2 linked regions of the Homo sapiens genome follow. The protein of the gene in region 2 interacts with the protein of the main gene of each other region in a biochemical or structural test. Each region holds a gene or a part of one and is shown on either strand. Other genes may lie near its edges.

Region 1 (3,654 bases), on a different chromosome or scaffold from region 2:
TATAGAAATTATTGATGAGATACTTTACATTTTTTTCATAACAAGTTTTTAAGATGCGGTGTATACTTTTTACTTATAGCATATCCGTTAGCACCAGCCACATTTCAAGTGTGCAGTGGCCACTGTGTGGGCCACAGGTCTAGAATATAAGACATGAAGATGGAGAGTGAGAAATGCCTTTGGAAAGGTTGGAAGTTCCTGTCCTTCTGCTGCCAATTACCAAATCTCCTGAGAGTGCTATTAAGGAGTGACTCAAAGCACTACACAAAGAGAATTATAAATATCTTAATATTATATCTGAAATCCAAATGCATAATTCTTTACATTTGGTTGGTACTTTAGAGAGGAGAGAATGGGCACAGTCACCCACACCACCCATTTGAGCCTCATAATCACCTGTGATGTGGCTTCCTCTAGGTGGGAAACCGAGGCTTAGAACGGTTAAGTGACTATCCCAGGGTGGCAAGATCATAAGTGGAAGGGTGTGAATTCATACTGTCTCCAGCGGACAAGAATAAAAAGACCCAGGCTGGGTGTGGTGGCTCATGCCTGTAATCCCAGCACTTTGGGAGGCCACTGTAGGTGGATCTCCTGAGCCCAGGAGTTCATTACCAGCATGGGCAACATGGTGAGACCCCATTTTTATTAAATATACAGAAAATTAGCCCAGCTTCTCGGGAGGCTGAGGTGGGAGGATCACTTGAGTCTGGGGGATGGAGGTTGTAGTGAGTTGAGATCGTGCCACTGCACTCTAGCTTGGGTGACAGAGCAACACTCTGTCTCAGAAAGAATAAAAAGATTTGGCCATGAATTCGTCAGCTAGTTTTCCTTACATAATTTTTGGACAAGGAGATCTGACATTCATAGGTTTTTCTCTTAGAAGTGGGAGAGCTTCAAGGTCACGTGGTCCGTCCAGCCCCTGCTATCTCACCAGACACTGTCCACCCTGTATGTTGGATCAGTACTCCAGTGAGAAGACAGCAGGCACTTTCACCCATGCAGCCCATTCAGTCTTCATAACCACCTGTGATGGAGGCAAGGCAAGTATTTCAGCCCCCTCTGATGAGTGGGAAACTGAGATGTGCCCCCTCTCTGCTCCCCACCGAGGACCTCTGCATGCAGGCATGAATCCCAGGAGCCTAGCTGATATTGGAGAGACGGGGCGGGGGGAACCAGCTGCAGGGTCTTGGAGGAAGCTGCTGTGTACACCTGCAAGGCTGCAGGTTACATCTATCTGTCAAGCAGTGAAGGAAGGAAGTTGTTTCTAAGGGATTGGAAAAATTCATTAATTAGTAGAATGAGAAACTGAGGTGAAGCAGGAGGTGGCAGGGTCCCAGACAGCATGTTGGACTAGTGGCCTGTGTCACTGTGTTTTTTGCAGGCGGGTGGCATGGGGTGTATGCTGACTTCTTATTCCAGGAGTTGGTGCCAGGAGGCCAGGTTTTCTTAACATCCTTGTTTTACAGATGTCAAACTTGAGGGCCAGAGGGGTAGGAGAGGAAGAGACTTTTTGTACCTTTTTTGGGAAAGAACAAGAGGGAAGCTGGCAGATGAATTTGAAGTGCATTGACCAGGGAGCTGAGAGAGGGCGGTCTGCAGCCAGCCCACACCTGGGAGGAGGCGGCAGGCTTTTCTGGGGACAGAGTGGCCAAGTCGAAGCAAGCTTAACCATCTCAACATGACACCACTCTTTCCCATTGGAACCTGAGAACTTGTTCAGTATTCTGACACTTAGCAAGGGACCTGGGTTTTCTTGGTCAGGTGTGCGTTTCTGGGTGACAGGCCTGCATCAGGTGTATTTTCGGGATGTAGTAAGTTGTGGAATATGGGTTTAGGGGCATCCTCTGGCAAGCACTGCTTCTATCCCAGCTCTGGGAATGTGCCCCATGCAGTGTCCTAGATGGCCCATCTGTGGTCTGCTTCCAAGGGTCTTTCTTTTAGTTAGTTAGTTTTGAGACAGAGTCTCACTCCGTCACCCAGGCTGGAGTGCAGTGATGCAATCTCGGCTCACTGCAACCTCCACCTCCCAAATTCAAGCAATTCTCATGCGTTAGCCTCCTGAGTAGCTGGGATTACAGGCGTGCACCACCACACCCAGCTAATTTTTGTATTTTTAGTAGACGAGGAATTTCACCATGTTGGCCAGTCTGGTCTCAACTCCCCACCTCAGGTGATACTCCCGCCTCAGCCTCCCAAAGTCCCGGGATTGTAGGTATGAGCCAACATGCCCTGGCACAAGGGTCTATCTTTGACCAATGGAACTGCAAATCAAGCCTCTTTTGTTACCAGAGTTACCTTGGATTTACCCTTATCTACTTGGTTTGGATAAATTGAGTTTGCATCAGATGGAGTCAGGCTTGATCAATCCCTTATTTACTTCCTCCCACCCTGTTCTCTAATATCCAAAAACCTTGAGGCACTATTACATGCTAGCTACATTTCCTTGAGTAAAGTACTTAACCTCTTTGAGCCTCAGTTTCTCCATTGCATAAAAGGAATAATAAAACTTATCCCCCATAAGTTTATAGTGAGGAATGAATTAATTCCTCACTATAGTTCTAAATTAATTCTACTTAGGGCATCCTTGGTACATAGTGGGTGTTCAGTATTCATTTCATTTTCTCTTTTCTGATTCCTTTCGTAAAAGTAGAAAAATGAAAGAGAAATGTTGACTTCTCTTTTGATTTGAAATCATTAAAACATTTTAGTAAGCCTTGGGAGGGAGCTAGTGGTGTGGCATGTGTATCCCGCTGGCCAAGCACATGTGAACGAAGCCAAGAATCCAGGGGCTTTTCTGCCAGCCAGCACTGACTCACTTGCGAGGGGCCCTGCCTGGCTCGGGGGAGGCAGGGCTGAAGTACCACATTAGGGCATGTTCCGGGGAAGTAGATTCTCTGAATAACTTGGATGGCTCCCTGGAGCATTTAGGACAGAAGCCACCTGGAAAATAGAGATGGTCACCCCCACGTAGCCTTGACAGTGCCCAGAAAGTCTTGTCACTTGGTAAATGTTAACAGCTATGATCCGTTCTTTAAGACCCTGGGGAGTTTTAAGTTTTACCCCACCAGACCTGAGAAGGGTAAAGGGCTGCAGATTCTGTTCTTTTAACTGGGGCCAGTGTGAGCCATCTTTGACTCAGTGCTTGCAATAGACCTTGATTCTGCAGTGGGACCTCCCAGGCCCCCTTGCCCCCCGCAACTTCTGGACTCATATCCGTCAGACATCACTTGTCACCTTCCAGCATCAGGGAGAACTGGATCCCTCCTGGCTCCACACTCTTAGGCTCTTTGTAAGTAGCTGGTGAGGGTTTTCTTCTCTCTGCAAGGGAGGCTGGTAGAACTATGGATGTGATTCGTACAATTTTAGAGACAAAAAGAAAGTACCCAGGAGGTCATTTATTTCAGCTGCTTCATTGCATAGGTCGGGGAGTTGAGCATGGAGTCCAGCAGCTACTAACTAGTTATCTCTGTACCTGGCTTCCATTTACTGGTCCTTAGCTTGTTCCGTGATTCTTCATTGCCCCTTATTTCTCACCAGAGGGACTGGTTGGCCCTAGATGGAGTGGTCTTTTTAAAATTTTTTTTTTAAATTTTTTGAGACAGAGTCTCACTCTGTCACCTAGGCTGTAGTGCAGTGCTGCGATCTCGGCTCACT
Region 2 (4,184 bases):
TGAATGTTGCCATTCTCAGCATCTGTTAGGTTGTCCCTATATTGGAAGTATAAAAAGCCATCATCCATGTCTTAAGTAGTTAAAATGATTGTCAAAGATTCTGTGATCATTGGGAAAAAAATCTACATTACATCAATAAAAAAATTTATTGTCTTTGACCAAAGGCTATTTCAACATGCAAAGATTCAATCATGGGTAGGCAGACTGGTATATTTAGAGTACCTTACGGAGTTTAAGGTTTTGTGAAAAGGTATAACATGTCTGATTTGATATTTTAGTTTGTCACTATGTCTAGGATAATGTCCAACACATATAGGTACTCAAAAATATTTGTTGAATGAATAAATATCAGAGCGCTTCATAGATTATTTCATTGTATTATTTTGCCATGTTATTATAAGAGTAATAGAGTTACACATACATACATCTTTGTGAATCAGATAGTACATTTTCTAGAATTGGTCTTAAGCCAGGAGTAGAGTACTCCATGCATGAATGTGAAGGGCAGAATGAAAGATGGTGTAAGAACTTTATAATGAAAAGCTTAATGGTTTAGGAATTACATATCTATTAGTAATGGTATCTGTTTTTCGTAATATACAGTCATGGGCCTGTCCTGAAAAAGGTAATAGTAAAGATTTGTCTGAGCTTAGGAGAGGTACAATAAATCAGATTGGACGGTTAATGAGTATTAAAAAAAACAGAAAGAATGAATAAGACCTAGTATTTAATAGCTTAACAGGTGACTACAGTCAATAATAATTTAATTGTACATTTAAAAACAACCAGAAGACTATAATTGGATTGTTTGTAACAAAAAGGATAAAGGCTTGTGAGGATGGATACCCCATTTTACATGATGTGATTATTATGCCTTGCATGCCTGTATCAAAACCTCTCATGTACCCCACAAACATATATACCTACTAGGGACCCACAGAAATTAAAATTAAAAAAAATCAGATTGAACACCCTTACCCCAGTCATTTATATTATTCTAATTATTTGCATTTAATATAACCAGTCTATCAGATCAAGAATTTTGTTCAAATATTTAATAATAAAATTACTGTTTATTTAATGCGACATGAGCTCAGGCTAGTCAGAAGACCAGTTCTTACTGTACCGTAGCTAAAGAAAACATAATTTTGATACATGGCTCTAAGGGAATGCTTCAGTTTTTTTCCCCCTAAATATATGATTTTGGCTACCTGAAAATGACATCAGCCACAGTGAAAGAACTGTGATTTTGCTCATGTAAGGCTTGCCATAATACTGAGGTATGCAACAGCGCAATTCTACAGAATTTTATAGTGTCTTCAGCTTTGCAGTCTGTACGTCACTCTATGAAGACTGAAGCTTCTGTGCCATGAAGTACTTGAATTGCTGATTTGTTTTGGAAGGATTTGAGAACAGAAAATATCTGTAAAAGTGCTTGGCATATATCAGGCACAAAATATCATAGCCAAAAATTAGGAGGCTAATGAACACATTAAAAAATTACGAGTATGTTTCAAACAGAAGACTAAAGGAAGACTTTATAAGACTATATGGAAGGAAAAATGGAAGGGGATTTGAGAATAAATATGAATAATGGGAGATTTTATAAATGTATATACAGTCTAATAATAAAAAAAATCACTGAGGAGACAGAAGTTAGAATATGTTGAAAGTCATTCCGTCCTTGATCTGTGCGTGCTGGAAGTTATGTGGACATTGACCAGACTGTCAAATGCGCGTTTAACGTAATACCCTTATTATTGAGTCCTTTATATTTTACAAATAATTTATATTTTAAAAATAGAGTACTATAGAAATTAACATTTTATTACATTTTAATAACAAACTACAAGAATTCTCCAAGACTTCTAATTCAGCCTAAAAATAAAAATCTACCATTTGTGGCTACATAAAATTAAAAACCTATTAAAATTAAGACGCAATTAAAAGGGTAGTATCTAGAGTCAAGTAATTTTGAATATTATCAAGTCATTTAAAAAACGAAACAGCAGAGTTAGGATTTTTAAAGTCCTGGGCAATAAAAATCCTAGTATTCTTATAGTTTATGGATCACTATACTGTTATGAATCCATCTGAGACATGACTTCAAAATGAAAATTCGTAGTTAAAGTGTTTCCAGATTAAAATTGTGAAAGCCATCAGCACATACTGAGGGGTTGGTCTTTTCCACTGTGTTCTTCTAGATTCATGGTTTACATAATAGGTCCTTCCAAGGATATCCTGCCTCTCTTCCCACCCTGGAGGTAGAGGAGAAGGTTCTTGTTGTTGCTGCAAATGGCAAGCAGCATCTGGTTGGTCCAAAACAACCCAGCCAGGCTGAAAAACAGGATGGCAGCAATTAAGTTTACGCATGATTTTTTTAACTTTCTAAATTATATGCTAAAGGAAATTTAAAAAGAGATTTATTATATCAAGTTTTAGAAATTATGCATAGACAGAATAAACAATCCTCAACTTTTAAGACCATAATGTAAATACTTTATGATAATGAAGACTCTTTTTGCAAAAATGATAACCATTTAAATTTTGTTTAAAATTGTCTAAAAATTTTTCAAAAAAAACTTTAAAGGCACAAGCCTGTAAAGTTTCCACCAGGTTCTTCCTGGGTGACAGAACCAGATCCCATCTCAAAACAACAATAAAACAGAACTTTAAAACAAATCTATTTAAAATTTTCATAACAAAAAAGTAATAAAAGTATGTGAGGTGATTTAATGAGATTAATTAGCCTGATTTAATCATTTTGCATTGTAAGTATATATCAAAACATCACATTGTCCTCCATAAATATATACAATTATTGTCAATCAAAAATAAAATTTTAAAAAATCTAATAGAAAAAAAGGACAAAAAATCGTTTAAATAAACAACCACGGAAAGTTGGAAAGTACTGAGAAATTGAGAAGTATAGTTTAAACTACTAGTGTAATCTTAGGCTGTTCTCTAAATTATCAACTGAATGAAGGGCAAGGATTATTTCTTATTGGTCATTGTCTTTCCTACAGAGAAAGCACCTTGCTTACGGTAGAAATCAATAACTATCTGACACATGGAAAAAATCATTTGATAAAGGTCAAATATACAAAGGGGCAAGATGGGGAAGGCAAATGATTTAGAAATAACTGCTACAGTGAACTCTCTAGTGATGGAAAAGTCATTCTCATTCCCTTGTCTGATTTCTCTCTTTCTCCTCTGGACCAAGGCAAGGCATTTTATCAAGTCATAAAACAGCCAAAGAAAGATTTTTAAAAAATGCACTGAGAAGTTTGGTTTCTCAGAGATTAACAAGGGGCAAAATTAACATAAAGCCTTAGGGCAGTTAAAGTAAGGAATTGATAGAAAAGAGTAGCAAGAGTTAATGCTTTTATATGAGAAACCTCACAAAAGAAAAGGCAGTAGGTCAAAGATTCTATTAAATACTGATTGGTTAGGAAAGCATTAGAAACTGAAATAAACTGGTGAAGAAAACTTTAAAATGCTCCCAAAAGGACACAAAAGAAGACCTAAATAAGGGAAAGACATAGTCTGTTCTTGGCTGGGAAGACTCAGTCTCACAAAGGTGTCAATTCTTCCCAAGTTAATCTATAAATTTGCCAAGATTCCAACAAAACTGTATTATGATTAAAAAAAAAAATAGGCCAGGTGCGGTGGCTCAGGCCTATAATTCCAGCACTTTGGGAGGCCGAGGCGGGCAGATCACTTGAAGTAGGGAGTTTGAGACCAGCCTGACCAACATGGAGAAACCCCATCTCTACTAAAAATACAAAATTAGCCAGGTGTGGTGGCGCATGCCTGTAAATCCCAGTTATTCGGGAGGCTGAGGCAGGAGAATCACTTGAACCCGAGAGGCGGAGGTGATGGTGAGCCGAAATCACGCCATTGCACTCCAGCCTGGACAACAAGAGTGAAACTCTGTCTCATAAGAAAAAAAAAAAAAAAAGATACGAGGCAACTCTCAAGTTCAACAGAAACATAAACAAGCAGGAATAAGCAGCACAATTTTTAAAAAGAAAAGCAAGAAGTGAAGATCAACCCTACCAGATAAAAACACATTATAAATGACAACAATTAAAGCTGTGTGGTTCTGGTGCATGCATCGACAGGCAGCTCAATAGATTTGCCCAGAAAGAAACTCAACTTTATAGGAATTCCGGCCAGGCACA

Evidence for each region.
Region 1: the proteins of NEDD4 (region 2) and FGFR1 form a complex in vitro, tested with the Homo sapiens proteins (2 studies listed by BioGRID and IntAct, with this or other methods).

What each region holds. Positions count from the first base shown.
Region 1 is NC_000008.11:38,458,482-38,462,135, reverse strand, and holds part of FGFR1 (fibroblast growth factor receptor 1 isoform 1 precursor), read left to right. Parts: intron 1-880; exon of another isoform or gene 881-1,029; coding exon of another isoform or gene 1,030-1,040; intron 1,041-3,654. UniProt on the Homo sapiens protein: Tyrosine-protein kinase that acts as a cell-surface receptor for fibroblast growth factors and plays an essential role in the regulation of embryonic development, cell proliferation, differentiation and migration.
Region 2 is NC_000015.10:55,860,743-55,864,926, forward strand, and holds part of NEDD4 (E3 ubiquitin-protein ligase NEDD4), read right to left. Parts: intron 2,338-4,184; coding exon 2,171-2,337; intron 37-2,170; coding exon 1-36. UniProt on the Homo sapiens protein: E3 ubiquitin-protein ligase which accepts ubiquitin from an E2 ubiquitin-conjugating enzyme in the form of a thioester and then directly transfers the ubiquitin to targeted substrates. Specifically ubiquitinates 'Lys-63' in target proteins.